2 separate regions of the Homo sapiens genome follow, and region 2 is linked to region 1. The links come from fine-mapping of genetic effects on gene expression. A gene starts in region 1. The other region holds a variant in brackets. All regions are shown on one strand. Distances are between the middles of the regions. Region 1 holds the start of BNIPL (BCL2 interacting protein like). Region 2 overlaps GABPB2 (GA binding protein transcription factor subunit beta 2).

The links.
Region 2: its variant is fine-mapped to the expression of BNIPL in whole blood (TOPMed, PIP 0.98).

Annotation. Positions count from the first base shown.
Region 1 is chr1:151,035,204-151,038,223 of GRCh38, reverse strand. BNIPL (BCL2 interacting protein like) reads right to left here and starts at 1,638. Exons shown (of 10, transcript NM_138278.4): 1 at 1,458-1,638; 2 at 562-657. The coding sequence starts at 1,498. It overlaps PRUNE1 (prune exopolyphosphatase 1), which reads right to left. Exons shown (of 8, transcript NM_021222.3): 8 at 2,511-3,020.
Region 2 is chr1:151,111,650-151,114,404 of GRCh38, reverse strand. All of the region lies in intron 7 of GABPB2 (GA binding protein transcription factor subunit beta 2), which reads right to left. It also overlaps the pseudogene RPS29P29. Among named protein-coding and RNA genes, the nearest start is that of SEMA6C, 34 kb to the left of the region's middle. The variant AT/T (reference allele first, on the strand shown) is at 1,323.

The DNA.
Region 1 (3,020 bases):
TTTTGTATTTTTGTAGAGATGGGGTTATGCCATGTTGCCCAGAGTAGTCTTGAACTTCTGAGCTCAAGTGATCCACCTGCCTCGGCCTCCCAAAGTGCTGGGATTACAGGCATCAGCCACCACGCCCGGCCTCTGTTTTCTTTTTCCCATTTTTTTCCTTCAAGTCCTAATTCACCATCCCTGTGTCCATTTGCTTTTTTTTTTTTTTTTTTTTTTTTTTTTTGAGACAGAGTTTCACTCTTGTTGCCCAAGCTCGGGTGTAATGGCACAATCTCAGCTCACTACAACCTCTGCCTCCCAGGTTCAAGTGATTCTCCTGCCTCAGCCTCCCGAGTAGCTGGGATTACAGGCATGTGCCACCACACCTGGCTAATTTTGTATTTTTAGTAGAGACGGGATTTCACCGTGTTGGTCAGGCTGGTCTCAAACTCCTGACCTCAGGTGATCCACCCGCCTCGGCCACCCAAAGTGCTGGGATTACAGCCATGAGCCGCCGCGCCATCCCCTCCGTCCATTCGTGACCACCCCTCCCTTCTCCCAGCCACCCTCACACGTCCTCACCTAGGGAATTCTTCATCCTGCCATTCCTCCTTCAGCTCCAACTCCCCATGTCTCAGGGCTGCTCCTAGTTCTGGTGCTTCTGCAATCTCCCTGACCCTAAGACAGCCCCCAAGAAGAAAAGATCAAGGGAACTGAATAGTAGGTAAGAATAATTGAAATGAAGAACAGTAATTGAGATACAGAGCAGAGGATAGGCCTTCAAAAGGACTCAGATCTCTTGCCTCCTATACAGATGCTTCTCTTACCTTCACCACTTGCTAGAAGCAGATTACCTGCTGTTAAGTTTGGGAGCAGACGAAAGATGGAATGTAAAGTTAATCATATTTACCTCTGTAGCAGTTGCTCCACCTACAAAGTTGGGGTGAGAGATGTCCCACATTACAAGTGGCTGGAACCCAGCTAGACCCACCCAGCTATCATTGAGCAAAGTCGGGAAGACGGTACCTAGTTAGGCCTGCCTTTCCTCCACCGAGCTGGGGAGTGGCTAAGGGAAAACATGGCATAAGTGGAGGGGTGGAGGAAGAAGGTAAGGAGAAAGATTTGCCAGAACGAGAACCTGGACCTAAACTCGGTTCTGGTTCAGCTTTCCTGATGGCCATTCTGGAGGGTGAGGGTTAGAAAATAAAAGAACACAGGCAGATTTATCAGGTACAACATATTACAGAAACTTCCTTTATTTTTAAACCAGGGAATTATCCTGGAATCCTGTTCCCCAGTTCCATACCATACTGACATTTCCTACCTAAAACCACCCTCATCTCTTCTCTGCAAACTCTCTTACAGTCTTGTCTCCTTGAGGAACCCGAGATTTGACCCAGTAAGAGCTGGGTGGTGGGGAAGTCTCTCCGGACTGTTTATTCACTGTTACCAATCAAGTGAGCCAAGATCTTACTTACCCAACATCTGTCTTTTTTCCTGCCTCTTGTATAGTTCCCATCTTCACAAGTCTTCCTGCCTCCTTCTTTAAACACCTAGGAGTTGTTGGGGAGCTGGTTGTCCCAGCCCCCAACACTTCCTTACCTCTTTTCTGTCTCAGCTGTTGTAGCTCTTGCCTCCAAGGAGGGAGGTGTGGAAGGGAGGTAACCTCATCTTCAAAACAGGTTTTGCCACTCCTCTCCCCAGGAGCAGGTTTGCCCAAAAGAAAAACCCTGCCTCCTGTGAGGGGGCGGGTTTTGGGGAGGAGAGTGCATTTTCTAGTGGGGGCCAGTCTCGGTTGAGTCTAGGAAGGCAATTTGTTCTCCTTTCCAGACTCCATATATCCCTCTCAAAGTTGCTCTTTACACAAATAAGCAAAAAAACCAGTAGAAACCGTTGTGTTTCTGGCCGGGCGTGGTGGCTCACACCTGTAATCCCAACACTTTGGGAGGCCAAGGCAGGCGGATCACCTGAGGTCGGGAGTTTGAGACCAGCCTGACCAATGTGGAGAAACCCCATCTCTACTAAAAATCCAAAAAAAAAAAAAAAAAAAAAAAAAAAAAAAAATTATCTGGGCGTGGTGACACATGCCTATAATCCCAGCTACTTGGGAGGCTGAGGCAGGAGAATCGCTTGAACCTGGGAGGCAGAGGTTGTAGTGGGCTGAGATTGTGCCATTGCACTCCAGCCAGGGCAAAAAGAGCAAAACTCCATCTCAAAAAAAAAAAAAAAAAGAAAAAGAAACCATTGTGTGTGTTTCTAGGACTGTTATCTTGGATCTACTTTTCAAGCATAAGGAAAACTGGGGAAACGGAAGTATGTTATAAGGAGGTTTCTGGGAGAATAAACAAGTTGAACGGGAGGCTGAGGATGAGGGGAGACAGAAGCCTGTTGCTCCTTATTCCCAAAAAGAGTCAACAGAAAGAAGACATTAAGTATAGTAGGAAGAAGGGGGATCAATTTTGAGGAGACTGAAACAACTATCACAGAGAAAGGCCTGAATACACTTGTAAAAAAAGACAGTAAGACCCCCAAACAGGAAAAAATTATTTAATAGTATAACAAAATGCAAAATAAAGTACCCAAGTTACAAAACATAAATTCCTTTGGTTCATGATCACACCACTATTTTTACCTTCCACATAGCTACAGACATCACACCCTCAAAGTGAAGTCAAACTGTCCCCCTCATACTGAAGATGTCATGCCAAAACCATCACATACCCCACTGTTCAGTGAAACTGTTGGCAACTTACATGGAACAGAGCTGTGGGGTAGGAAAAAGGGGAAAGGGTTGCGTTAAAAAAAATGGGGAGACTCTACACATGCAGAACAAGTTAGTGGGAGGGAGTGCTCTGCTGGGTCAACACGCCATGAACCACACCCCTATTCGTGCTACATGAGGCTGAGTCCTTGCTACAACCACACAGAAATACAGACAATCAAGTGAACCTGAGCACCCCCAGGGATAACAGAAGAAAAATACAGAGAAGCAGAGGAGAGAAAGAATGGCAGCAAGAGGCAGATCACAGAATACCAGGGAA
Region 2 (2,755 bases), 76 kb before region 1:
AAGAACCTGTAAACAATTATGGTGTTCATAATGCTTTATTTATTTATTTATTTATTTATTATGAGACAGAGTCTCACTCTGTTACCCAGGTTGGTGTGCAGTGGCAGAATTATGTCTCACTGCAGCCTCAACCTCCTGGCCTCCAGTGACCCTCCCAAGTAGCTGGGACTACAGGCACACAAAAGCACGCCTGGCTAATATATTTTTTTTTTTGTATTTTTTTTTAGAGATGGGTTTCGTCATATCGTCCAGGCTGATTTCAAACTCCTGGGCTTAAGCTATCTGCCGGCGTAGTCCTCCCAAAGTGCTGGGATTATAGGCATGAGCCACTGTGCCCAGCCAGTTTTATTTTTAGATAGCTGAAACTGGAAGCAGCTTAAATGTCCTTCACTGGGTAAATGGTTAAACAAACTGTGGTACATCCATATCATGGAATAATCTCAGCAATAAGAAGGAATGAAATATTGATTCAAACAACAACTTGGATGGGTATCAAGGGAATTATGCTGAAAGGAAAAAAGCCAATCTCAAAATCATGTATACTGTATGATTCCACTTATATAACATTATTGAAATGACAAAGTAGAGGATGGGCACGGTGGCTCATGCCTGTAATCCCAGCACTTTGGGAGGCCAAGGTGGGCGGATCACCTGAGGTCAGGAGTTCGAGACCAGCTTGGCCAACATGGCAAAACCCTGTCTCTACCAAAAATACAAAAAATTAGGTGGGCATGGTGGCATGTGCCTGTAATCCCAGCAATAGATTTCTCTGTATTATTTCTTAGAACTGTACTGAATCTTTAATGATCTAAAAATAAAAAGTTAAAAATTATATTTACGTTTTAGGATATATTATGATTATTTTAAAACAGAAGATTTGGCCAGACACGGTAGCTCATGCCTGTAATCACAGCATTTTTTTTTTTTTTTTTTTTGCAGTTGGAGTCTCCCTCTGTTGCCCAGGTTGGAGTGCAGTGGCACGATCTCTGCTCACTGCAAGCTCCGCCTCCGGGGTTCACCCCATTCTCCTGACTCAGCCTCCGGAGTAGCAGGGACTACAGGTGCACGCCACCAGGCCTGGCTAATTTTTTTGTATTTTTAGTAGAGACAGGGTTTCACCGCGTTAGCCAGGATGGTCTCGATCTCCTGACCTCATGATCTGTCCACCTCGGCCTCCCAAAGTGCTGGGATTACAGGTGTGAGCCACCGCACCCGGCCAATCACAGCATTTTGGGAGGCCAAAGTGGGAGGAAAGCTTGAGTCTAGGAGTCTGAGACCAGCCTGGGAAGCTTAGCAAGACCTCATTTCTATTAAAAAAAAAA[AT/T]TGAGGGGCTAGGCGCAGTAGCTCATGCTTATAATCCCAACACTTTAGGGGCTGAGGTGGGCACATCACTAGGTCAAGAGATCAAGACCATCCTGGCCAACATGGTGAAACCCTGTCTCTACTAAAATACAAAAAAAAAAAAAATTAGCCAGGCGTGGTGGTGCACACCTGTAGTCCCAGCTACTCAGGAGGCTGAGGCAGGGGAATCACTTGAACCTGGGAGGCAGAGATTGCAGTGAGCCGAGACCATGCCACTGCACTCTAGCCTGGTGATAGAACGAGACTCTGTCTCAAAAAGAAAAAAAAAATTCGGGAGCTCCTTCCTTTTACCTCGTTGCACTCTTGAGAGCAAGATGGGTTACCAGCAGCTCTACTGGAGCCACCCACAAAAATTTGGCCAGGGTTCTTGCTCTTGTCATGTCTGCTCAAACCAGCATAGTCGGCCAGGTGCGGTGGCTCACACCTGTAATGCCAGTGCTTTGGGAGGCCGAGGCCGGCAGATCATGAGGTCAGGAGTTCAAGACCCGCCTGACCAACATGGTGAAACCCTGTCTCTACTAAAAATACAAAAAATTAGCCGGGCATGGTGGGAAACGCCTATAATTCTAGCTACTCAGGAGGCTGAGGCAGGAGAATCGCTTGAATCCGGGAGGCAGAGGTTGCAGTGAGCTGAGACCACACCATTGCACTCCAGCCTGGGCGACAGAGTGAGACTCTATCTCAAAAAACAAAAACAAAAACAACAACAAAAAGAAAAAATCAGCACAGTCTGATCCGGAAATATGGCCTCAATATATACCGTCAGCCTTTCCATCAGTACATGAAGGATATAGGTTTTTTTTTTTTTTTTTTTTTTTTGAGATGGAGTCTCGCTCTGTCGCCCAGGCTGGAGTGCAGTGGCGTGATTTCGGCTCACTGCAACCTCCACCTCCCGGGTTCATGCCATTCTCCTGCCTCAGCCTCCCGAGTAGCTGGGACTACGGGCGCCCACCACCACGCCCAGCTAATTTTTGGTATTTTTAGTAGAGTCAGGGTTTCACCATGTTAGCCAGGATGGTCTCGATCTCCTGACCTCGTGATCCGCCCGCCTCGGCCTCCCAAAGTGCTGGGATTACAGGTGTGAGCCACTGCGCCCAGCCACAGGATATAGGTTTCATTAAATTGGACTAAGTGATCTCTCTTGAATGGATTATCCAAGGCATGCACCCAATTAAAAACCATGTTAGCTCTTCATATATGAAAATTAAAGGCCGGGCACAGTGGCTCATGCCTGTAATCCCAGCACTTTGGGAGGCCGAGGCAGGTGGGTCACAAGGTCAGGAGTTCGAGACCATGGTGAAATCCTGTCTCTACTAAAAATACAAAAATTAGGCCGGGCGCGGTGGCTCACACCTGTAATCCCAGCACTTTGGGAGGCCGAGGCGGGTGGATC